Linked DNA regions of Homo sapiens. The protein of the gene in region 1 purifies or fractionates together with the protein of each later gene. This does not show direct contact. Each region holds a gene or a part of one and is shown in the gene's direction. Other genes may lie near its edges.

What was found.
Region 2: the proteins of MAGEA9 (region 1) and KIF2C purify together in Homo sapiens (affinity purification with mass spectrometry, with the first as the bait; one large-scale study listed by BioGRID). This does not show direct contact.
Region 3: the proteins of MAGEA9 (region 1) and CNST purify together in Homo sapiens (affinity purification with mass spectrometry, with the first as the bait; one large-scale study listed by BioGRID). This does not show direct contact.
Region 4: the proteins of MAGEA9 (region 1) and CTTNBP2NL purify together in Homo sapiens (affinity purification with mass spectrometry, with the first as the bait; one large-scale study listed by BioGRID). This does not show direct contact.
Region 5: the proteins of MAGEA9 (region 1) and MTO1 purify together in Homo sapiens (affinity purification with mass spectrometry, with the first as the bait; one large-scale study listed by BioGRID). This does not show direct contact.
Region 6: the proteins of MAGEA9 (region 1) and IFFO2 purify together in Homo sapiens (affinity purification with mass spectrometry, with the first as the bait; one large-scale study listed by BioGRID). This does not show direct contact.
Region 7: the proteins of MAGEA9 (region 1) and CNOT6L purify together in Homo sapiens (affinity purification with mass spectrometry, with the first as the bait; one large-scale study listed by BioGRID). This does not show direct contact.

What each region holds. Positions count from the first base shown.
Region 1 is NC_000023.11:149,784,930-149,788,237, forward strand, and holds the end of MAGEA9 (melanoma-associated antigen 9), read left to right. Parts: intron 1-827; 5' UTR 828-914; intron 915-1,072; 5' UTR 1,073-1,141; intron 1,142-1,216; 5' UTR 1,217-1,281; coding exon 1,282-2,229; 3' UTR 2,230-2,808; downstream 2,809-3,308. UniProt on the Homo sapiens protein: Not known, though may play a role in embryonal development and tumor transformation or aspects of tumor progression.
Region 2 is NC_000001.11:44,763,837-44,766,051, forward strand, and holds part of KIF2C (kinesin-like protein KIF2C), read left to right. Parts: intron 1-2,215. UniProt on the Homo sapiens protein: In complex with KIF18B, constitutes the major microtubule plus-end depolymerizing activity in mitotic cells. Regulates the turnover of microtubules at the kinetochore and functions in chromosome segregation during mitosis.
Region 3 is NC_000001.11:246,569,456-246,572,955, forward strand, and holds part of CNST (consortin), read left to right. Parts: intron 1-413; exon of another isoform or gene 414-418; coding exon of another isoform or gene 419-535; intron 536-3,500. UniProt on the Homo sapiens protein: Required for targeting of connexins to the plasma membrane.
Region 4 is NC_000001.11:112,455,214-112,458,438, forward strand, and holds part of CTTNBP2NL (CTTNBP2 N-terminal-like protein), read left to right. Parts: intron 1-717; coding exon 718-2,199; 3' UTR 2,200-3,225. UniProt on the Homo sapiens protein: Regulates lamellipodial actin dynamics in a CTTN-dependent manner. Associates with core striatin-interacting phosphatase and kinase (STRIPAK) complex to form CTTNBP2NL-STRIPAK complexes.
Region 5 is NC_000006.12:73,468,237-73,471,736, forward strand, and holds part of MTO1 (5-taurinomethyluridine-[tRNA] synthase subunit MTO1, mitochondrial), read left to right. Parts: intron 1-3,500. UniProt on the Homo sapiens protein: Component of the GTPBP3-MTO1 complex that catalyzes the 5-taurinomethyluridine (taum(5)U) modification at the 34th wobble position (U34) of mitochondrial tRNAs (mt-tRNAs), which plays a role in mt-tRNA decoding and mitochondrial translation.
Region 6 is NC_000001.11:18,946,677-18,950,176, reverse strand, and holds part of IFFO2 (intermediate filament family orphan 2), read left to right. Parts: intron 1-3,500.
Region 7 is NC_000004.12:77,712,887-77,715,627, reverse strand, and holds the end of CNOT6L (CCR4-NOT transcription complex subunit 6-like), read left to right. Parts: 3' UTR 1-2,241; downstream 2,242-2,741. UniProt on the Homo sapiens protein: Has 3'-5' poly(A) exoribonuclease activity for synthetic poly(A) RNA substrate.

The sequences.
Region 1 (3,308 bases):
GTGGACAAAACAGGGAGGCCCTGTGTTCGACAGACACAGTGGTCCCAGGATTGGAGAGCAGTCCAGGTGAGGAACCTAAGGGAGGATCGAGGGTACCTCCAGGCCAGAGAAACTCTCAGATCAAGAGAGTTTGCCCTGCCCCTACTGTCACCCCAGAGAGCCCGGGCAGGGCTGTCTGCTGAGGTCCCTCCTTTATCCTGGGATCACTGGTGTCGGGGAGGGCTGGCCTTGGTCTGAGGGGGCTGCACTCACGTCAGCAGAGGGAGGGTCCCAGGCCCTGCCAGGAGTCCAGGTGCAGACTGAGGGGACCCCACTCACCAAACACAGAGGACCTAGCCCCACCCTGCCCCTTGTGTCAGCTGAGGGAAGCCGCTGGGTGGATGGACTCCCCTCACTTCCTCTTCAGGTGTCTCCTGGAGATAGGGCCTCAGGTCAACAGAGGGAGGGTTCCAGACCCTGCAGGCATCAAGATGAGGACCAGGCAGTATCCTCACCCCAGGACACATGGACCCCATTGAATTTAGACATCTCTTACTGTACTTCCGAGGAAACCCTGGGCAGGTGTGGGCAGATGTTGGTTGGGGCATGTCCTTCTGTTCCATATCAGGGATGTGAGCTCCTGATCTGAGAGACTCTCAGGCAAGTAGAGGAGTAGAGTCCAGTCCCTGCCAGGAGAAAGGTCAGGGCCCTGAGTGAGCGCAGAGGGGACCATCCACCCCAAAAGTGTGTAGAACTCAAGAGTGTCCAGCCCGCCATCTTGACAGCACTGAGGGACCGGGGCTCTGCCTGCAGTCTGCAGCCTAAGGGCCCCTCGATTCCTCTTCCAGGAGCTCCAGGAAGCAGGCAGGCCTTGGTCTGAGACAGTGTCCTCAGGTCGCAGAGCAGAGGAGACCCAGGCAGTGTCAGCAGTGAAGGTGAAGTGTTCACCCTGAATGTGCACCAAGGGCCCCACCTGCCCCAGCACACATGGGACCCCATAGCACCTGGCCCCATTCCCCCTACTGTCACTCATAGAGCCTTGATCTCTGCAGGCTAGCTGCACGCTGAGTAGCCCTCTCACTTCCTCCCTCAGGTTCTCGGGACAGGCTAACCAGGAGGACAGGAGCCCCAAGAGGCCCCAGAGCAGCACTGACGAAGACCTGTAAGTCAGCCTTTGTTAGAACCTCCAAGGTTCGGTTCTCAGCTGAAGTCTCTCACACACTCCCTCTCTCCCCAGGCCTGTGGGTCTCCATCGCCCAGCTCCTGCCCACGCTCCTGACTGCTGCCCTGACCAGAGTCATCATGTCTCTCGAGCAGAGGAGTCCGCACTGCAAGCCTGATGAAGACCTTGAAGCCCAAGGAGAGGACTTGGGCCTGATGGGTGCACAGGAACCCACAGGCGAGGAGGAGGAGACTACCTCCTCCTCTGACAGCAAGGAGGAGGAGGTGTCTGCTGCTGGGTCATCAAGTCCTCCCCAGAGTCCTCAGGGAGGCGCTTCCTCCTCCATTTCCGTCTACTACACTTTATGGAGCCAATTCGATGAGGGCTCCAGCAGTCAAGAAGAGGAAGAGCCAAGCTCCTCGGTCGACCCAGCTCAGCTGGAGTTCATGTTCCAAGAAGCACTGAAATTGAAGGTGGCTGAGTTGGTTCATTTCCTGCTCCACAAATATCGAGTCAAGGAGCCGGTCACAAAGGCAGAAATGCTGGAGAGCGTCATCAAAAATTACAAGCGCTACTTTCCTGTGATCTTCGGCAAAGCCTCCGAGTTCATGCAGGTGATCTTTGGCACTGATGTGAAGGAGGTGGACCCCGCCGGCCACTCCTACATCCTTGTCACTGCTCTTGGCCTCTCGTGCGATAGCATGCTGGGTGATGGTCATAGCATGCCCAAGGCCGCCCTCCTGATCATTGTCCTGGGTGTGATCCTAACCAAAGACAACTGCGCCCCTGAAGAGGTTATCTGGGAAGCGTTGAGTGTGATGGGGGTGTATGTTGGGAAGGAGCACATGTTCTACGGGGAGCCCAGGAAGCTGCTCACCCAAGATTGGGTGCAGGAAAACTACCTGGAGTACCGGCAGGTGCCCGGCAGTGATCCTGCGCACTACGAGTTCCTGTGGGGTTCCAAGGCCCACGCTGAAACCAGCTATGAGAAGGTCATAAATTATTTGGTCATGCTCAATGCAAGAGAGCCCATCTGCTACCCATCCCTTTATGAAGAGGTTTTGGGAGAGGAGCAAGAGGGAGTCTGAGCACCAGCCGCAGCCGGGGCCAAAGTTTGTGGGGTCAGGGCCCCATCCAGCAGCTGCCCTGCCCCATGTGACATGAGGCCCATTCTTCGCTCTGTGTTTGAAGAGAGCAATCAGTGTTCTCAGTGGCAGTGGGTGGAAGTGAGCACACTGTATGTCATCTCTGGGTTCCTTGTCTATTGGGTGATTTGGAGATTTATCCTTGCTCCCTTTTGGAATTGTTCAAATGTTCTTTTAATGGTCAGTTTAATGAACTTCACCATCGAAGTTAATGAATGACAGTAGTCACACATATTGCTGTTTATGTTATTTAGGAGTAAGATTCTTGCTTTTGAGTCACATGGGGAAATCCCTGTTATTTTGTGAATTGGGACAAGATAACATAGCAGAGGAATTAATAATTTTTTTGAAACTTGAACTTAGCAGCAAAATAGAGCTCATAAAGAAATAGTGAAATGAAAATGTAGTTAATTCTTGCCTTATACCTCTTTCTCTCTCCTGTAAAATTAAAACATATACATGTATACCTGGATTTGCTTGGCTTCTTTGAGCATGTAAGAGAAATAAAAATTGAAAGAATAATTTTTCCTGTTCACTGGCTCATTTTTTCTTCAGACACGCACTGAACATCTGTTATTCGGAACACCCTGGGTTAGTAGTAGAGATGCTCGGTAAGCCAGACCCACCCCTTTGCCATAGGGTGGTGAAGTCTAGGGGCTACAATCCTAAAATTAAGGTGGTGCCATGTCCTCTAAGAAGTAGAGGAAAATAAAACATGGGTGAGGGTTTGGGGCTCTAGATGACAGCAGTCGAGTGTATATGCCCTGAGCCAGGGCCCTTTGGGCTTTGGGAAACTGCAGTTCCTTCTGGGGGAGGTAATTCTATTGAAGCTGGGTGGTGCCAGAGCCAGATTCTCAGAGGATGAGAGAAAGGCCTGGAATGGACGACTGCTCAGCAGTTCCTTTTGGATAGTGGATGAACAGAGAAGAGTCTCCACCTGGGGCAGGAATAGAAGGAAATCGTCCCGCGCTCTTGTCTCGGTGCGCTTGAACACAGTGCAGGGGCTAGGTGATGGATACCTA
Region 2 (2,215 bases), on another chromosome or scaffold:
CAGCCTGGCCAACGTGGCGAAACCCCATGTCTACTAAATACAAAAAATTAGCCGAGTATGGTGGCGGGCGCCTGTAATCTCAGCTACTTGGGAGGCTGAGGCAGGAGAATTACTTGAACCAGGGAGGCAAAGGTTGTAGTGAGTCAAGATCGTGCCACTGCACTCTAGCCTGGGTGACAGAGCAAGACTCCATCTCAGAAAAAAAAAAAGAGAAACTAGTGCCTAGACCAAACTGTGTCCGTGTTCATGGGATTGGAATGAGGACATGAGATTCATGAACCATTTAGATATACAAGCATGAAAATCTTACAAGGTACCCCCCAAAATATGTACTCTCTCTCTATATATATATGTTTTTGAGACAGAGTCTCACTCGTCACCCAGGCTGGAGTTTAGTGGTGCAATCTTGGCTCACTGCAGCCTCCGCCTCCTGGGTTCAAGCGATTCTCCTTCCTCAGCCTCCTGCGTACCTGGGATTACAGGTGCGTGCCACCATGCCTGGCTAATTTTTTGTATTTTTAGTAGAGATGGGGTTTTACCATGTTGGCCAGGCTGGTCTTGAACTCCTGATCTTAAGTGATCCGCCTGCCTCAGCCTCCCAAAGTGCTGGGATTACAGGTGTGAGCCACCATGCCCAGCCTATATATCTGGTTGGTTTTTGTTTGTTTGTTTGTTTGTTTGTTTTGGGGGGGGATGGAGTTTCGCTTTTGTCCCCCAGGCTGGAGTGCAACGGCACCATCTCGGCTCACCACAACCTCCACCTCCCAGGTTCAAGCAATTCTCCTGCCTCAGCCTCCCAAGTAGCTGGGATTACAGGCATGTGCCACCACGCCCAGCTAATTTTGTATTTTTAGTAGAGACGGGATTTCTCCATGTTGGTCAGGCTGGTCTCGAACTCCCTACCTCAGGTGATCCTCCCGCCCCGACCTCCCAAAGTGCTGGGATTACAGGCGTGAGCCACCACGCCCAGTCGTATATCTATTATTTAAAAAGAATCATTTGACCGGGCGCAATGGCTCACGCCTGTAATCCTGTCACTTTGGGAGGCTGAGGCGGCCACATCAACTAAGGTCGGGAGTTTGAAACCAGCCTGGCCAACATGGTGAAACCCCGTCTCTACTAAAAATACAAAAATTAGCCAGGCATGGTGGCAGGCATCTGTTATCCCAGCTACTTGGGAGGCTGAGGCAGGAGAATCACTTGAGCCCAGGAGGCGAAGGTTATAGTGAGCCGAGATGGTGCCACTGCACTCCAGCCTGGGCAACAGAGCAAGACTGTCTCAAAAATAAAATAAAATAATCATTTGGCCAGGTGCAGTGAGTCATGCCTGTAATCCCAACACTTTGGGAGGTCAAGGAAGGAAGATCACTTGAGCTCAGGAGTTCGAGACCAGCCTGGGTAACATGGCCCCATCTCTACAAAAAATAAAAATAAATAAATATCCCAAAGGTGGTGTGTGCAGCAAAAATTATAATAAAAAGAACTGAGGGTAGGGATAGCATTAGGAGATATACCCAATGTAAATGACAAGTTAATGGGTGCAGCACACCAACATAGTTCATGTATACATATGTAACAAACCTGCACGTTGTGCACATGTACCCTAGAACTTAAAGTATAATAATAAAAAAAGAAAGAAAGAAAGAAAAAAACCATTTAGGGAGCAGAATTGAGGAGGATTTGGTGACAAGTACGGTGAAAGAATAAAGTCACTCGGGCTGGGCGCGGTGGCTTATGCCTATAATCCCAGCACTTTGGGAGGCCAAGGCAGGCAGATCACAAGGTCAGGAGATCAAGACCATCCTGGCCAACATAGTGAAACCCTGTCTCTACTAAAAAATAAAAAAAAATAGCCTGGTGTGGTGGCGCGTACCTGTAGTCTCAGCTACTCGGGAGGCTGAGTTGTATACCTATTATTTAAAAAGAATCATTTGACCGGGCGTGATGGCTCACGCCTGTAATCCTAGCACTTTAGGAGGCTGATGCAGGCAGATCAACTAAGGTCGGGAATTTGAGACCAGCCTGGCTAACAAGGTGAAATCTTGTCTCTACTAAAAATACAAAAATTAGCCAGGCATGGTGGCAGGCACCTGTAATCCCAGCTACTTGGGAGGCTGAGGCAGGAGAATCACTTGAACCCGGGAGGCGGAGGTTGCAGTGAGCCGAGATCACGCCACTGCACTCCAACCTGGCGACAGAGCAAGACTCCGTCTTA
Region 3 (3,500 bases), on another chromosome or scaffold:
CACTGAGAGTCTGATTCTGTGGGGTAAATTAAAAACTCCTCTTCCTGAAGTACTGCGGTATTTAATTTGAGAAGTTTCTATGCAGGAAGAGAGTTCTAAGTCTCTTCCTTTTAGTGTTTTTGTTTTGTTTTGTTTGTTTTGAGACAGATTCTCATTCTATTGCCCAGGCTGGAGTGCAGTGGCAGTCCCGGAGCCCTGAACTCCTGGGATCAAATGATCCACCTCAACCTCTCAAAGTGTTGAGATTACAGGCGTAGCCACCATGCCCAGCCTCTTTCTCTTAGTGTTGACTGTGTTAACGTTGAGCCCCATGCTTGTTTAATGAGGCTCATAAGATGAATAGTGTTCAGTCATTTCCTGGCGTGTCATTGTTACTAGTTATTTACATCTGCACGTCAACAGTGTGTCAAGGCACAGTATGAGTTTCTGTCGACTAAATTGTAGGGAGAACTTGAGGACCTTCAAGAAGATTGAACTTTATTGTGAACAGGTAGAGTACCTGTTGTTGCAGAGTTATTTTCTGAGTCAGTTTCAGGTAAGGCTAAGAGTTTTATAAATGTGCTTCTTTATATCATGGTGTTTCTTACCAAGGGAAAGATCAAATCTTTGAGCAAAATTTAGAAAGGAAGAGAGTAGGTTTTATGGCTGTAGAATGCTGGGAGCCTGAGTAAAGTAAAAGATTAACTTGTGTATGGTGGTTTAGGGGAATTTAAAAGGAAAGATGGCAGTTTTTATATAAAGCAACTGACATACTGTCTCCATACGTGCTTCAAGTTGTTTTTGCAACAAGGGTGGTGATTTACGTAGAACCGTCAGTGGTTCAGAGCTGCTGTAACAAAGGTAACTCTAAAGCCAGTTAACCTCCATGGGGATCAGTCAGACCCATCATTGTTCCTGTCTTGACCTCTGTGCTCTAATAAACTTCCCTAAATACTACTTTAGCTGCTGTGTGTTATATCTACATTAATAGCTAAATTAGCCTGAAGGCCTAATTAATATTCAGTGTAATTTAATACAGGAAACATGCCCTCTTCTCAACCTTTATAGTATGAAGAAATTTTAAATTACCTGGTCAGTGAACAAACTCCCTCTGTCAAATATAGTCATGATAGACCTGGCACAATGTAGGGACTATGGGGAGTGTTAGAGGATCAAAGACAGAATTGGGGAAGGGGTATAGTTACTGGATGTTACTTGTTCTGTGAGAGATGTGTGGATGTTCTATAAGAAAATAATAATGTTTTTTGTTTGTATTTAAAACTAGATAGCTGTTTATTGGCACCCTTTTAGTTGGATAAGAGAAAATACATTGCTTGGTTTCTACAAGTGAGTCTTAGCAAATTTATTGTAGTTATTTTAGGAAGAGTAATTGATAGTGCAGTAATCTTCAGTTTTTAAAAAGCCCTGATAAGGTTTAACTGGGCTTTAAAAGCATTATATGCTTAATGAGAAATTCTAACTTAATATATGTATGTCTTGATACTGTTATGTAACCTTTCCAGTTTAGGGCCTTCAAGATTCACATGAATACAGGCTTTCCTTTATGTAGGAATCATTCTCATGGGGGAAATTATATATCCTCTCAGGGAATAATTTTGTTTTTTAAGCATTTGAAATAATTGTTTGTAATATTCGTTAAAGAACACATCATTAGCAGAATTCTGAAGTCTTATAATAGCTTGAGATTTCTTAAATTGTTTTTATCCTTTTTGAGACAGTCTTGCTCTGTCGCCCAGGGTGGAGTGCAGTGGTACGAGATCTCAGCTCACTGCAACCTCCACCTCCTGGGTTCAAGTGATTCTCCTGCCTCAGCCTCCCAAGTAGCTGAGATTACAGGCGTGTGCCACCACACCCAGCTAATTTTTTGTATTTTTAGTAGAGACAGGGTTTCACTATGTTGGCCAGGCTGGTTTCAAACTCCTGACCTCAAGTGATCCGCCCACCTCAGCCTCCCAAAGTGCTGGGATTAAAGGCGTGAGCCACTGTGCCAGGCCAAATGGTTTTTATCTTAGTTTTGAGATCCTGCTCTTTAACATTTTGGAGATGGAAACTTTTTGCCATTATACCCTCCACCCTTCCGTCTCTTAGGACTTCCTGTTTTTCATCATCATTAGCCACGTGGAAAGGAAAGACAGTGTGTGCCTATGAAAATACTGACAAATCAAGATGATTTTTCCTTTTAGATTAAGAAAAATTCTGAAACAGTAAATGGTAAATTTTGTCATATTTATTTACTTATTTTAGAGATGAGGTCTCACTATGTTGCCCAGATTAGCCTTGAACTCCTGGGCTCAAGTGATCCTCCTGCTGTAGCCTCCTGAGCTGGGGCTATAGGCATGTGCCACACTGTCTGGTTAGTCACCCTTCATTGACATTTGGGCATTTGATATTTAAATTGACAGTATCTAGGCAATTATAGAAATTAACATTATTTTGCAATTGGCATATGTATTAAATTTTCTTATGAGAATAATTGCCCTGTTTTTTTCTGGAGAGCCACTACCTGATTAAATAATCACATATTTTTTCTACCTTAGCTGCATTTTGAAAACTCAGTGAATTAGGTGACTGTGGTTTTCTAATTTGAATGAAGGTAAAGTAACCTTTAAAAATGGTTTTTGGCCAGTCACAGCCATGCCTGGGACTCACGCCTGTAGTCCTAGCTACTCTGGAGGCTGAGGTGGGAGGATCACCTAAGCACAGGAGGTCAAGGCTGCAGTGAAGCATGACTGCACCACTGTGCTCTGCACTCCAGCCTGGGTGACAGAGTAAGACCCTGTCTCAAAAATACATACATAAATGAATTAAATACTTTTTTATATTATAGATTTTGAAATAAGTTATTAAAAAATTTGGGAACTTTATAAGATCAAATGCTGCTGTCCTTGAGTATTTGATAGTATACTGCTTATATTTTGATTTTTTGTATGCATTGTCCTTGTTCATTATTTTTCTCTTCTGCAGCTTTTATTCCCAGTATACAACTAAATCTTAAAAATAATTTTTAGATGAACTGAAAAACATTGCCTAAGATTTTTCAATAAGGATTTTTGTGAAAATGTGTGTGGTTTGTTATTTAGAGATGAGATCTCACTGTTTTGCCCAGGCTAGTCCTGAACTCCTGGGCTCAAGTGATCCTCCTGCCTTGACTTCCCAAAATACTGGGATTATAGACGTGAGCCACCACTCCCAGCCAAATGTATGTTTTATTTATTGAATAATAAATAGTGGAGTTATTTATTTATGTGTGTGATATGTGGTTTTTTTAATTATTAATTTTTTAGAAAAATAGAAGCAGGGTTTCGCCATGTTGCCTAGGGTGGTCTTGAACTCCTGAGCTCGAGCAGAGTGCCTACTTCAGCCTCTCAAAGTGCTGGGATTACAGGTGTGAGTCACTGCACCAGGCCTGAGTTATTTGTTTTTACCTCATGAAACAACAACTAACATTTTAGATTTTTTTTTCCACTTGTGAAGCATGAAAAAGTTTACTTAAATTGGAT
Region 4 (3,225 bases), on another chromosome or scaffold:
ATATGATTCAGGCTGGGCACAGTGGTTCACGCCTGTAATCCCAGCACTTTTGGAGGCCGAGGTGGGTGGATCACCTAAGGTCAGGAGTTTGAGACCAGCCTGACCAACATGGAAAAACCCTGTCTCTACTAAAAATACAAAATTAGGCGGGTGTGGTGGCGCATGACTGATCCCAGCTACCCGGGAGGCTGAGGCAGGAGAATCGCTTGAACCCAGAAGGCGGAGGTTGCAGTGAGCCAATATTGCACCATTGCACTCCAGCCTGGGAGACAAGAGTGAAACTCAGTCTCCAAAAAAAAGTATGATTCAAATGCAACTATTTGTGTGTGTTTGTTTCTGAGACCCAAGAAAATTATTGCTGAAACTTTAAAATGTTTGTTTTCAGCAACATTCATCACAAAATGTGGTTGATACAGCTTTCTGTTATCTTGTTTTGATTGGTTCTGATGCTCTCCACATACGTGAAACACAAAGATACGTCATATTCCCACTAATCACTGCAAGACAGTATGGGAACTAGAAGTGCCTCCCAAATCATCAAAGAAAGATTAAATCATAGTGTGTGCATTTTTTGTGTTAGGTGTTCTAAAATTTCAGAAATACTTGATCTAAGCACTGTGATGTGCATGTTAATCCTGTATACCAGAGAACAGCTAACGAAGACAGTCTACTTGATCACAGTTTGTCAGTATGTCTCTCTTTTCTTTTTTTTTCTAGTTGGAATTTGAAAAATCCCAAGTGAAAAAGTTTGAAAAAGAACAGAAGAAGCTCTCTAGTCAGCTGGAAGAGGAGCGCTCCCGCCACAAGCAGCTCTCATCCATGCTAGTGCTTGAGTGCAAGAAAGCCACCAACAAGGCAGCCGAGGAAGGACAGAAGGCAGGAGAGCTGAGCCTGAAATTGGAGAAGGAGAAGAGCCGGGTGAGTAAACTGGAAGAAGAGTTGGCAGCTGAGAGAAAGAGAGGCTTGCAGACTGAGGCCCAGGTAGAGAAGCAGTTATCAGAGTTTGACATCGAAAGGGAACAACTGAGAGCAAAACTGAACCGAGAAGAGAACCGGACCAAAACCCTGAAAGAAGAAATGGAAAGTTTAAAGAAGATAGTGAAGGACCTAGAGGCTTCCCACCAGCACAGTAGCCCTAATGAGCAATTGAAGAAACCAGTAACCGTGTCCAAAGGCACAGCAACTGAGCCTCTCATGCTAATGTCTGTGTTTTGCCAAACAGAGAGTTTTCCAGCAGAAAGAACCCATGGGAGCAACATAGCCAAGATGACAAACACTGGGCTGCCTGGTCCTGCCACTCCTGCTTACTCATATGCAAAAACCAATGGCCATTGTGACCCAGAGATACAAACTACCAGGGAGCTGACTGCAGGCAACAATGTAGAAAACCAGGTGCCTCCACGGGAAAAATCTGTGGCATTGGCCCAAGAGAAACCAGTGGAGAATGGTGGGTGTCCTGTGGGGATTGAGACTCCAGTCCCAATGCCCAGTCCCCTCTCTTCCAGTGGGAGCTCACTGTCTCCCAGCAGCACTGCCTCCTCCTCTCTAACATCCTCTCCTTGCTCTTCGCCGGTACTCACTAAGCGTTTATTGGGGTCATCAGCTAGCAGCCCTGGCTACCAGTCATCGTACCAAGTAGGGATCAACCAACGGTTCCATGCAGCTCGCCACAAATTTCAGTCCCAAGCAGATCAGGACCAACAAGCCAGTGGCCTACAGAGCCCTCCATCCAGGGATTTATCCCCCACCCTCATAGACAACTCTGCCGCCAAGCAGCTGGCCCGAAACACAGTCACTCAGGTGCTCTCCAGATTCACTAGCCAACAAGGGCCAATCAAGCCAGTCTCTCCCAACAGCTCTCCCTTTGGCACAGACTATCGAAATCTAGCCAACACTGCCAATCCAAGAGGTGACACAAGCCATTCACCTACTCCAGGGAAAGTGTCCAGTCCCCTGAGCCCCCTGTCTCCAGGAATCAAGTCCCCAACCATCCCCAGAGCTGAGAGAGGAAACCCTCCACCCATCCCACCCAAGAAACCTGGCCTCACCCCTTCTCCATCTGCTACCACTCCATTGACCAAAACTCATTCCCAGGCAGCCTCTTTGACCACTGCAGAAGACCTTGCCAGCAGCTGCTCTTCCAATACTGTTGTAGCAAATGGTAAGGATGTTGAGTTACTTTTGCCTACCAGCAGCTAGTCCCTAGGAGGGAGTCTCCACGTTTGACATTCCATCAGATTTCGTCCAAAAGCTCAGTCAGACTTCTGAGTCAGATTATGTTATTTATTTTGATAGTAGCTGAAACCATCTGTATAATACATTTAGTATATTTCACCATTTTGTATTTTTTTAAGTAGAAACTGAGTAGTTTGGATTTTTATGGCTCACATCTTTTTACTGAAGCCAGAAAGGCACCTCAAAGATGTCTCAAGCTCAGCAGTCACCGTCATGTTGTGATGAAGAAAGCGAATCACCAGGTGGTGATTTGCTATCTATTTGAGAACTAGAATCACTCAACACTCATTTTGAATTATGCAGAAGTGGTTCATGCAGATTTTTATTCCAGATGAACATGTTTTAAAAGTGCCTGAAATATGACTGCCATATGAATGTGATTCTGCAGCAAAAAACACAAAATAGATCATTTAATTACAGAAAATGAGATCCTCTGTGAATTCTGAATGTTAAAAACCAACACTGCTTTTAATCCTCTTTTAATGTTTTAATACAAGCTTTGTGTTCTGAAACAAGGCTGCATAAGTAGAATGGGAATCCTTCTAAAGGTGGGTGTGAACTCACCACAAGCTGAGCTTTATAGAGCCCTTGAGAAACCCTCCTGAGCACTAAGCAGTTGGGGTGCTGATTTTCTTGTACTTTTGAAAAATTAAGTCACTCCCAGTTTCCTGCATAAGTTCTTGAACAGAATGAAATCACATCTCCATTCAAAAAATGTCTCAAGCATCTACTGTTGTGTAAGGAACTTCTGATTCTGATTGCTGTTACTTGAATAGGAAATGGTTACTCATTCTGTATAAAAGTTTTGCAAGAGAATGAATTTTTTATTCTGTAATCAAAAAGCAATAACTTGAAATTCACTCTGTAATATTATAGGTCAGTCAGAATTATACAAGTTTTACCAAATTGTTACACTTATTCTCCAAGCTGCCAGAACCTGGTATCTGTATCTGTAAAACCAAATTAACTTTTGCTTAAATGGGAAGTATA
Region 5 (3,500 bases), on another chromosome or scaffold:
CCTCCCAAGTAGCTGGGGTTACAGGCGACTGCCACCATGCCCGGCTAATTTTTTGTATTTTTAGTAGAGACAGGGTTTCACCATGTTGGTCAGGCTGGTCTTGAACTCCTGACCTCAAGCGATCCGCCCACCTCAGCGTCTGAAAATGCTGGGATTACAGGCATGAGCACTGTGCCCAGCCTATTAACTTATTATTATGGTAATTCTCTTTAATGTCCAATTTTCCTTCCCTCTCTCCTTCTGATATAATTATACCGTAATTTTTGGTTGATAGTATTTACATTATTGACTAAGTATTGTTTACTGCATGGAAGTGTATTATGTTTGTCCCTTTCTTATGCTTGGTTTTGCCTTGAGTTAATAATTGCTTTATTTTATTTATTTATTTTGAGACAGAGTCTCACTCTGTCACCCAGGCTAGAGTGCAGTGGTACGATCTTGGCTCACTGCAACCTCCATCTCCCAGGTTCAAGCAATTCTCCTGCCTCAGCCTCACGAGTAGCTGGGATTACAGACAGCAGCAACCACGCCCAGCTAATTTTTGTGTTTTTAGTGGAGACAGGGTTTTACCATGTTGGCCAGGCTGGTCTTGAACTCCTGACCTCAAGTGATCCGCCTACCTCCACCTCCCAAAGTGCTGGTATTATAGGGGTGAGCCACCACACCTGGCCTTCTCCAGATTTTTTAGTTCTGTTTATGTGTTTGGGCTGCTCTCTTTCATGTACACAACTTCCTTTAAGTATCTAGCGAACTTTGGTTTTCTGTTGACTTCTTTGCGTTTTTGGTTTTGGAGACAGGGTCTTACTCTGTCACCCAGGATGGAGTGCAGTGGCACTATAATCGCTCACTGTAGCCTCCACCTCCCAGAGGTGATCCTTCCACCTCAACCTCCCAAGTAGCTGGGACTATAGGTGTACACTACCACACCCAGCTTATTTTCAATTTTTTTGGAGACGTGGGATCTCCCTATGTTGCTTCCCTGTGTTGCCTAGACTGGTCTTGAACTCCTAGGCTCAAGTGATCCTCCCACCTCAACCACCCAAAGTGTTGGGATTACAGGCATGAGCTGCCATGCCCAGCCTGTTACATTTTTAAATGAGGCACTAGGTCGGGCATGGTGGCTCACGCCTGTAATCCCAGCACTTTGGGAGGCTGAGGCGGGCGGATCACTGAGGTCAGGAGTTTGAGACTAGCCTGGCCAACATGGTGAACCTGTCTCTACTAAAAATAAAAAAATTAGCTGGGCGTGGTGGCATGCACCTGTAATCCCAGCTACTCAGGAGGCTGAGGCAAGAGAATCGCTTGAACCCAGGAGGCGGAGGTTGCAGTGAGCCGAGATCGTGCCACTGCACTCCAGCCTGGGCGACAAGAGTGAGACTCCATCTCTAAATAAATAAATAAGGCGCTAAAACACTTAACTGGAAGATTTGTGTGTACACAGTTAATTTTATTGCCTGGCTGATTCTGGTGGTGATTAAGACTTGAACTGCTGGACACGGTGGCTCACGCCTGTAATCCCAGCACTTTAGGAGGCCGAGGTGGGTGGATCACCTGAGGTTGGGAGTTGAAGACCAGCCTGACCAACATGGAGAAACCCCGTCTCTACTAAAAATACAAAATTACCCAGGTGTGGTGGCACATGCCTGTAATCCTAGCCACTCGGGAGGCTGAGGCAGGAGAACCACTTGAACCCTGGAGGTGCGGGTTGTGGTAAGCCGTGATAGTGCCACTGCACTCCAGCCTGGTAACGAGCAAAACTCCGTCTCAAAAAAAAAGAAAAGATTTGAACCAGCCTTTTGGTTTGGTGAATTCTCAAATATCAATGTCTGTTAGTTCTCAGAAGAATCAGTTTTCCACCTAAGAGAGTAATATGGCTACCCACTAGCGTTCTGGGAACAAAATGGTAAGAGAGGCTGTGCCAGGGAGTGTCATCTTTTATTTTATTTTATTTATTTATTTATTTTTATTTTTTCTTTTTATTTATTTTTGAGACAGAGTCTCACTGTGTAGCCCAGGCTGGAGTGCAATGGCGTGATCTCGGCTTACTGCAACCTCTGCCCCCCAGGTTCAAGCGATTCTCCTGCCTCAGCCTCTCGAGTAGCTGGGACTACAGGCACGTGCCACCATGCCCGGCTACTTTTTTGTATTTTTAGTAGAGATGGGGTTTCACTGTGTTAGCCAGGATGTTCTCGATCTCCTGACCTTGTGGTCCGCCCACCTCGGCCTCCCAAAGTGCTGGGATTACAGGCATGAGCCACCGCGCGTGGCCCAGGAGTGTCATCTTTTAAAATACATATCTTAATTCCCATTTTCATTTTTATTATAGATTTATTAATTTTCTTGATTGGGAAATACATACTTAGGGCCAACAACTTAAAGGCTACAAAAAGCATATAGAGTGAAAAGATAGTCTGTCTTAGCTGGGCATTATGGGCATTATGTGATTATGGCTCACACCTATAATCCCAGCACTTTGGAAGGCCGAGGCAGGTGGATCACCTGAGGTCGGGAGTTTGAGACCAGTCTGGCCAACATGGCGAAACTCGTCTCTACTAAAAATACAAAAATTAGCCAGGCATGATGGCTCACGCCTGTAGTCCCAGCTACTCAGGAGGCTAAGGCAGGAGAATCACTTGAACCTGGGAGATGGAGGTTGCAGTGAGCTGAGATCTTGCTACTGCACTCCAGCCTGGGTGAGAGAGCAAGAGTCTGTCTCAATAGAAAAAAAAAAGATAGTCTGTCTCCTTCACTTTGTCCCCTCAACCAGCCAGTTTTCTTTCTCAGGAGCATTTGCTTTGTTAATCTGTTGTGTGGTCTTTCTACCTAGGCATATGTACATGTCTTCATGCATATGTATATGTATTTTTTGTTGTTTTCACAAAATCGTAGCATATTATACACACTGTTCCTCTGTACCTTTTTTTAAAAAAAAAACTTAATCTGTGTTTGCTTTGCTTTTGGAGGCCATGCTTTTTTTTTTTAAGTTTGTGGGTTTGTTCCGATGGTTACCTTAAAAGCTATGATTTTATATATAATATAATATGCTCACTGACTTCCCTCAAGTAACAATTACTAAATTAGTTTTACTTTCATTTCCTTTTCTCCCCCGACTTTCTTTATTTTCCAGATTTAATGGTTATATTGTTTTTATTAGTATTTATGTTTATACCCTTAAATTGTTTATTTTTTTATTTTTGAGACAAGTTCTCTCCCTCTTTCTTAGGCTGGAGTGCAGTGGCATGATCACAGCTCGCTGTAGCCTCGACCACCTGGACCCAAGTGATCTTCCTGCCTCAGCCTCCTGTGTAGCTGGGACCACAGGCATGTGTCACCACCCCTGGCTAATTTATTATTTTTTTTTGTAGAGATGGGGGTCTCACTATGTTGCCAGGACTGGTCTTGAACCCCAGGGCTCCAGTGATCTTCCTGCCCCAGTCTCTCAAAGTGTTCATATTATAGTCATGAGCCACTGAGCCTGGCCGATTTAATTTAATATCTTT
Region 6 (3,500 bases), on another chromosome or scaffold:
TTTGACCTACTCTTAGCAGTTGATTTGTGCCTCCGGAAATCTCTCGCCATCCCCCAGCCCTTTCTCCCAACTTCCTTTAAGAGAAACACACAAACCCCTCCATCTAGCGCCTCGGGTCCCTTGAGAACTATATTACAGAATCCCTTGGCTGGGTTGGCATTCTCACTGGGGACAAATTTGGGAGCGATTCTCAGAGCCTCAAGCTAGAGGGAGGGGAATGAGGTCCCAGAAAAGAAAAGGAAGCAGGGAGACAGCTGACGCTGAAGATTCCTTCTCAGAGGAATGCGAGGCGGGGCTTTGCCTTGGCAAACGAGACCGGATGCGGGTCCCCGGGTCCCCCTTCCCCCCACGTGTATGCACACTCACACTCACACACATGTACGTGCACACACACACATTCACATACACATGCAGATGCACACACCAGACTCTCCGTTCAGTCCTGTGGCCCACGTCCCCACACATGACCGTGTTTGAAGGACACAGAAGGGTAGACCCGGAATTTGAACACGCCCTTTGCTGCAACGAGATGCGTTGCCTTCCAGGAGAATTGATTTAAACTGTGCCATGTGTCAGTGACACCGGAGGCTGTGGGCTTTGCATTTGCAGTCCTGGCTTTTGATCGCATTGAGAGGTGAAGGCCGGCTGGCATTCCATTTATTTCCTATGTCGCGGATGGCTGAAGGCCCGGGACGGGAAGGAGGCAGCCCTGTCATGTCCCTGTGCTCAGGATTAGGGATGTGTTGCTTTTTCCTGACTTTCTGCTGTCAGGCGGTCCTAAGCACCCACCACCTCCCGATCACAGCCCCCCACACCCGGAGTTGTAACTACCTGGCATGTGTCTGCCCCTGCATCGACTGGAAGCTCTGTGGGGGCCGGCTCCAACTCTGGCTTCGTCTCCCACTGGCAGATCCCAGCCAGGACCTGGCCAAGGTCCATGCTGAGTAAATACTCATGCAGCAGGGAGGCCTCTGTGTCTGGCTGCTGTGAGCTAGTAGGCCTCCAGGAGGATGGGACAGAAGACGGACAACACAGACCACGTCCAGGGATTCGGCTGTTTGTGGAGGGGAGGGCCTGCACTTGGAATCAGAAGGCCTGGGCCAAAGTTCAAAGTTTGAATGAACCCCCAAGCCTGGCAGTGCAGGGTGCTGGGGCCCCAGGGCAGGAGTTAAAAGCCGAGTGAGCTTGGGCTAGTCACTGCCTCTCGAGCCTCAGTTTCTTCATCTGTAAAACAGGGATGCTAAGCTCTGTGTCCGGAGGTTGTGGAAGAAGTAGACAGGCTCGCCTAGCTACAGCACAGGGCGTGTAAACAGTCAAGTTCAGAATGATTTCACAGGGCAGAGAGTGGGTGCCCTACAGAGGCAGATCTGTGCTGGCCCTGTGGGGTGGGCAGAGGTTGAGAACCAAGCTGGAAACTGGGAGAGGGTGTCCCGTGCCCTTTGCTGGCAGCATCTGTGAGTTGCACAGCCCTTTGAGCATTGCCAGACTGTGAGGTGTTTAGAAAATTCCAGGCCAGATGGGAGACTGCTGAAGGTTTGTGATGTTGCCGCCGCCTGCCCACGAGGGGAGTGTCCTCCCACCCACACTGGGCACCGGGTGCTTGGCTTCCTGAGCAGGATGTGGTTTCTCATTCTAGACCTGGTACAAGAGAGGGTAGTTTTCACCCAACAGTAAACCTGGCAAATGGCAATGCCTGGTTCTCTGGAGGGTCCGTGGAGCCCAGGTCCTGGTCTGGGTTTGCCTGCGATGTGGTCTGAGCTTCACTATGCCCACGTGGGAATGGGGACAGTGGGAAGGTGGGCTTGCCCAGCAACCCTATGAAGACTACGTTCTCTCCGTAATGTAGCACAACTCTGTGCATGCCATTTAATCTCTTGCACCTCAGTTTGTCGCTCTGTACAATGGGGGTGTGGTTTCTTACGAGTTCTGCTTCCCAGGGTTGAGGTAAAAGTCAATTAAAACAGTGCAGTAGGAAAACATTTTGCAAAAGGATTTGAAAATAAATCAATATGGCTTAATGCTTCCGTTTATTGAGCACCTACTTTGTGCTAGGTGCAGTGATGACTTCTTTAAATATGTGATAATTATGGGAGCAGTCCCAAGCAGTGGGAAGTGATTATGCTCATTTTACAAATGAGAGGTTCAGAGAGGTGAAGACTTCTGTCCCAGATCTCGCCACGAGTCCGTCTGGGTCTCTGGACCCCAAGGTCAGTGCTCCTCCCAGGAGGTGGCCTTGTCCCATGCCCCTGGAGGTTGCCAAAGGCTGGCTCAGGGTGAGGAGGCAGGCAGGAGGCACGGGGTCTCCCCAGCACCTGTCACAATATTGCCATGGCGGGTGGCAGAATAGGAGGCGGCTGCTGCGCTGGGAAGACTCCCTGCTGTCACTTTACAGAAATTATTTCTTGAGAAGCAAATGAATCACTGGCAGTAGCAGGCAGATGAGGCTCCCGGGCCACTGTAGCAGGCCTGTCCAGGCCCCTGCTCTTTGGAGAAGGTCTCAATGGGGGCTGGCAGGGCTGGCAGGGGAGGAGTTGGGGAACAGGGAACACATATTATGACCCGTCTGGTGATTTCCACGCGGTCTCATTTAAACCCGGTGGTGGCACTGCAGGATGGAAACCGAGGCTCAGAGAGGAGAAGTAACTTGGAAGTCAGGCTCCAGATCCAACCTTTATCCTGTGCTGTACCCAGAAAGGGCCATGCCCATTGCAAGCCGCTTTCCTGCTGTGAGCCTCAGTTTTCATTTCTGTGAAATGTTGCCTAGCAAAGCTGGGGCAGGCTGTGGATCTCAGGCTCTCAATTAATGCTCCATTTATCTTGCCCGGCCCCTGAGTGTCCTCAGGGCACAGCCAGCCCGAGGTTCTCATCCACGGATCACCAGCAGCAGAGGGCCTCGGGCATTCTGGTGGCTGTTTGGGAGCTCGCCTCCGCCCTGGGCTGGAGTATCCCTAGCTTTTGCTTTCAGTCAGTGCTGTGAACTTTGCCAGGGAACAGGGAAGTTGTTACAATCGTTTGGTGCCTCTTGTTGGGGAAGATGAGACTGCTGGGTGTGGATGTCTGAGAAGCCAAAGTGGTGGTGGTTTCAGAACAGTGGCTGAGTACCCACCGTGGGCCAGGCCCCTGCCCTCGAGAACTCAGAATCTGGGGACATAGACAAATGTGTCATGCCATGTGGCAGCATCATGTGACAACAGCATGTGCCCAGTACCTTCTCCAACAGTGCTTGCGGATAGTAGGAACACAATAAACATGTGTTAGTTAATGAATTTCATTAAATATTTATACAACATTTACTCTTTGCCAGGCTTCATTCAAAGTGGTTTGCAAACATTTAATTCATGGAAGCTGTAATAACCCTGTGAGTTGGGTGCTATCATTAGCCCATTTTAGAGATGCTAAAACTGAGCCACAGAGGCAGGGGAGGGAACTGGGCCAAGACACCTTGAAAGTGGCAAGCCCAGGCCCGGTGCGGTAGCTCATGCCTGTAATCCCAGCACTTT
Region 7 (2,741 bases), on another chromosome or scaffold:
TTATGTAAATGTCTCTATTAAACCCCAGGTCCTACACCAGGAAATAGGGTGATAACCAGGAAAATACCAAGCTTTAACCCAGTTGGCAGTTCCTTGTGGCATACATTTGGTTAGACTTGGGTTTTTCCTGGAACCAAAGGAAAATAAGCATGTTGAGTTCTTCGTTCAACAGACATGACATTGAAGTAATAGAATATTTTTTAAGTAAAATAGTTTTCACTTTCAAAGCCTATGACATAAGGACATTTGTGCTTATTAATTGTTAATTTTTTTTTATGGTACATTGTATAAACTGAGTAGCATTGAACTGCATTTTAGAAGTATGTCATCAGAAACAAATCACATTATGGAAAGGATATACAAATGCCAAGTGATATGACTCTTTTGGCATGGTGGTAGCATGGTCCATTCAGCTTTCAGAATCTTTCGGAGGCTCTAGTTTGGTGCCTAGTACTAGTTATTTTTGTTAGAACAATCTCTCAAAATTTAGATAATTTTCCAGTTGTATGTCTGTCACTTTTAACTCTAAAGCGTAAGAATCATGGTAACCCTCTCAGAAGTGGTCCTTTCTTGCTCATTTCAGTTTCGTATTAACTTCAAATCACTGATGTATTGTCTTTCAAGCTATCAATTGTTATATGTACCAATTTAATTTAGTTTGTAGTTATCTGAAGTCACAAAATTGGTTCAGCATTGATGTCAAACAATGGCTTTGCTTCTTACCAAACAGACTTAGTATCCTGCTGCTTGTTTCAATCTTGATGCAGTAAGTGATGCAGTATCTGGGTCTGTATTTACTTAGAAACTGTACTGTCCTTTCTCTGTGCTTAACTTGCTAAAAATATATTCCCTTACCTGTGAAATTCCTGAGCGGTGCTCTGCCAACTTTTCAAGGGGAGGGATTTGGATGGCTGTGTTACTGCACACTGGATCTGGAATTGTTCAGGGTTATGAGTGACAAATTTCTTAAACACCAGCAGCACTGAGATGTGCACTATGGGCATTCGTACAGTTGTTGTCCAAATGCAAACAACTTTTTCATCTTGGAGAAGCTGAGATACAGAGTTCAATAGAACTACTTGGAATATTTTGAGAAGGTTGAATGTTTCATCTTTGGCTTTGTTGTCTCTGGAGTGGGGAAGTATGGAGGGCTTTTTTTTTTTTTTTTTTTTTTTTTTTTTTTTTTTTTAAAGAGAGTGTGTATGTACTTTTTCTCTCTATAAGGGCCAGGGTGTTGGTCAAATTCACCATCGATTAATTTATATCTTCTGTTGTGATTTTTTTCAACTATATAACAAGTGCCAACTAATTGTCCATGGGACAATCTACTTTTCCACTCAATTTATCGTTTTGAGTAGGGAAAGGTTCATTTATTTTCATTACCTGGCATTAAGTTAAAGAATTCATTATTTTGCATACATTTGAGTCATTCTGTGACCTATAAAGTGTTTTTGTAACTATCTAATTCTAATGGTTGCAAAGCAAAGCACATGACTGTAAAACCAAGCAAGGTGTTTTAGTAACTTTTTCCCTGAATACTTGGTAGTTTCCATTGATACTATTCCAAAACAAATTCTGCTGTTTTAGGTTGTATATTTACTTTGCTTTTGTTCTAAGAAAAAGCCAAGGACTAAATCAACTTGTTTTTGTGTTTCAGTAATCAGTTTAAAATCTAAGATTTTTTTTTAAATTAGACTATTTAATGAAGTGCCATGTAATTGTAGCTTGCTAGTGTTTAATGTTTAATAGACTGGTTCTGTAGGTGTTTTAACCATTTAACACTCTCTGCCATCCCTGGAGAAAGTGGTTCTACTCTTACTGAACACATTCTCTCTGACAAAATCACCAGCTGCTTTATTTTTCTATTTATTACAGTTAAACAGTTGATGAGGTCTGAATCTTGACCAAAACTGCTCAGCTGAGATGTTTTTCACAATAGACACTGTACAAAGTGTGCGTGCAAAAGGACACGGTTGGTAGTATTTTTTCATTAATGTGAACATTGACTAAAAAAAAGCAGTCCTGCCTTTTAAATCTTGTGGCAGCTCAGAAGGGAGGTGCTTAAGAACCTTAACTACTATGTCAGATAACAAAATATTTTTTTCCATTTTGGAGATTGGTTACTGCTCACACATGATGTATAGGGCTAAATATATGCTTGTTTCCTTGCACCTGTGTACTTCCCCTCTCTCCCTCCCTTTCCTTCCCCTGTAGGCAATAAATGGCCATTTTGCAACTGCATACCTTTGTCTTGGTTTTTGACTCTTTATTTGTGCAGTATAAACCTCTGCTTTTAGGTTGATACGTCTCTTCTAAAGTGAAGTAGGGAGCCAAGATAATTCAGGGCAAAATACATAATTACAAATTCATGCTACATTTTTTTTTCTGGTGAAAACTACATTACTAAGTACATTGTTTAAAAAAAATTCTGAAGCTAGTTATATGACTTGCTTTGCCCGAAGAAACCAGTGCAAAGGGATATATGTCACTTCTGAGTGGAACTTTAAGGGCCAGTCTTTAATTTGCCATATTTCCTTTTCTTGCCTGTGTGATCATAGAAGTATATGTTGAGATGAAACCTCTCATTCCAGATCCTTAAGTGACTTTGTTGAAGAGAACTCCCCTGCTGTCCTTTGGGCATGTAGCGTAATAAACAACTGCTAAATCTCAGTGTGTTAATACAATAAAGTTGTGTTATTAGGGCTTAATTTAGTTGATCCTGACTGACAGACAACCACCAG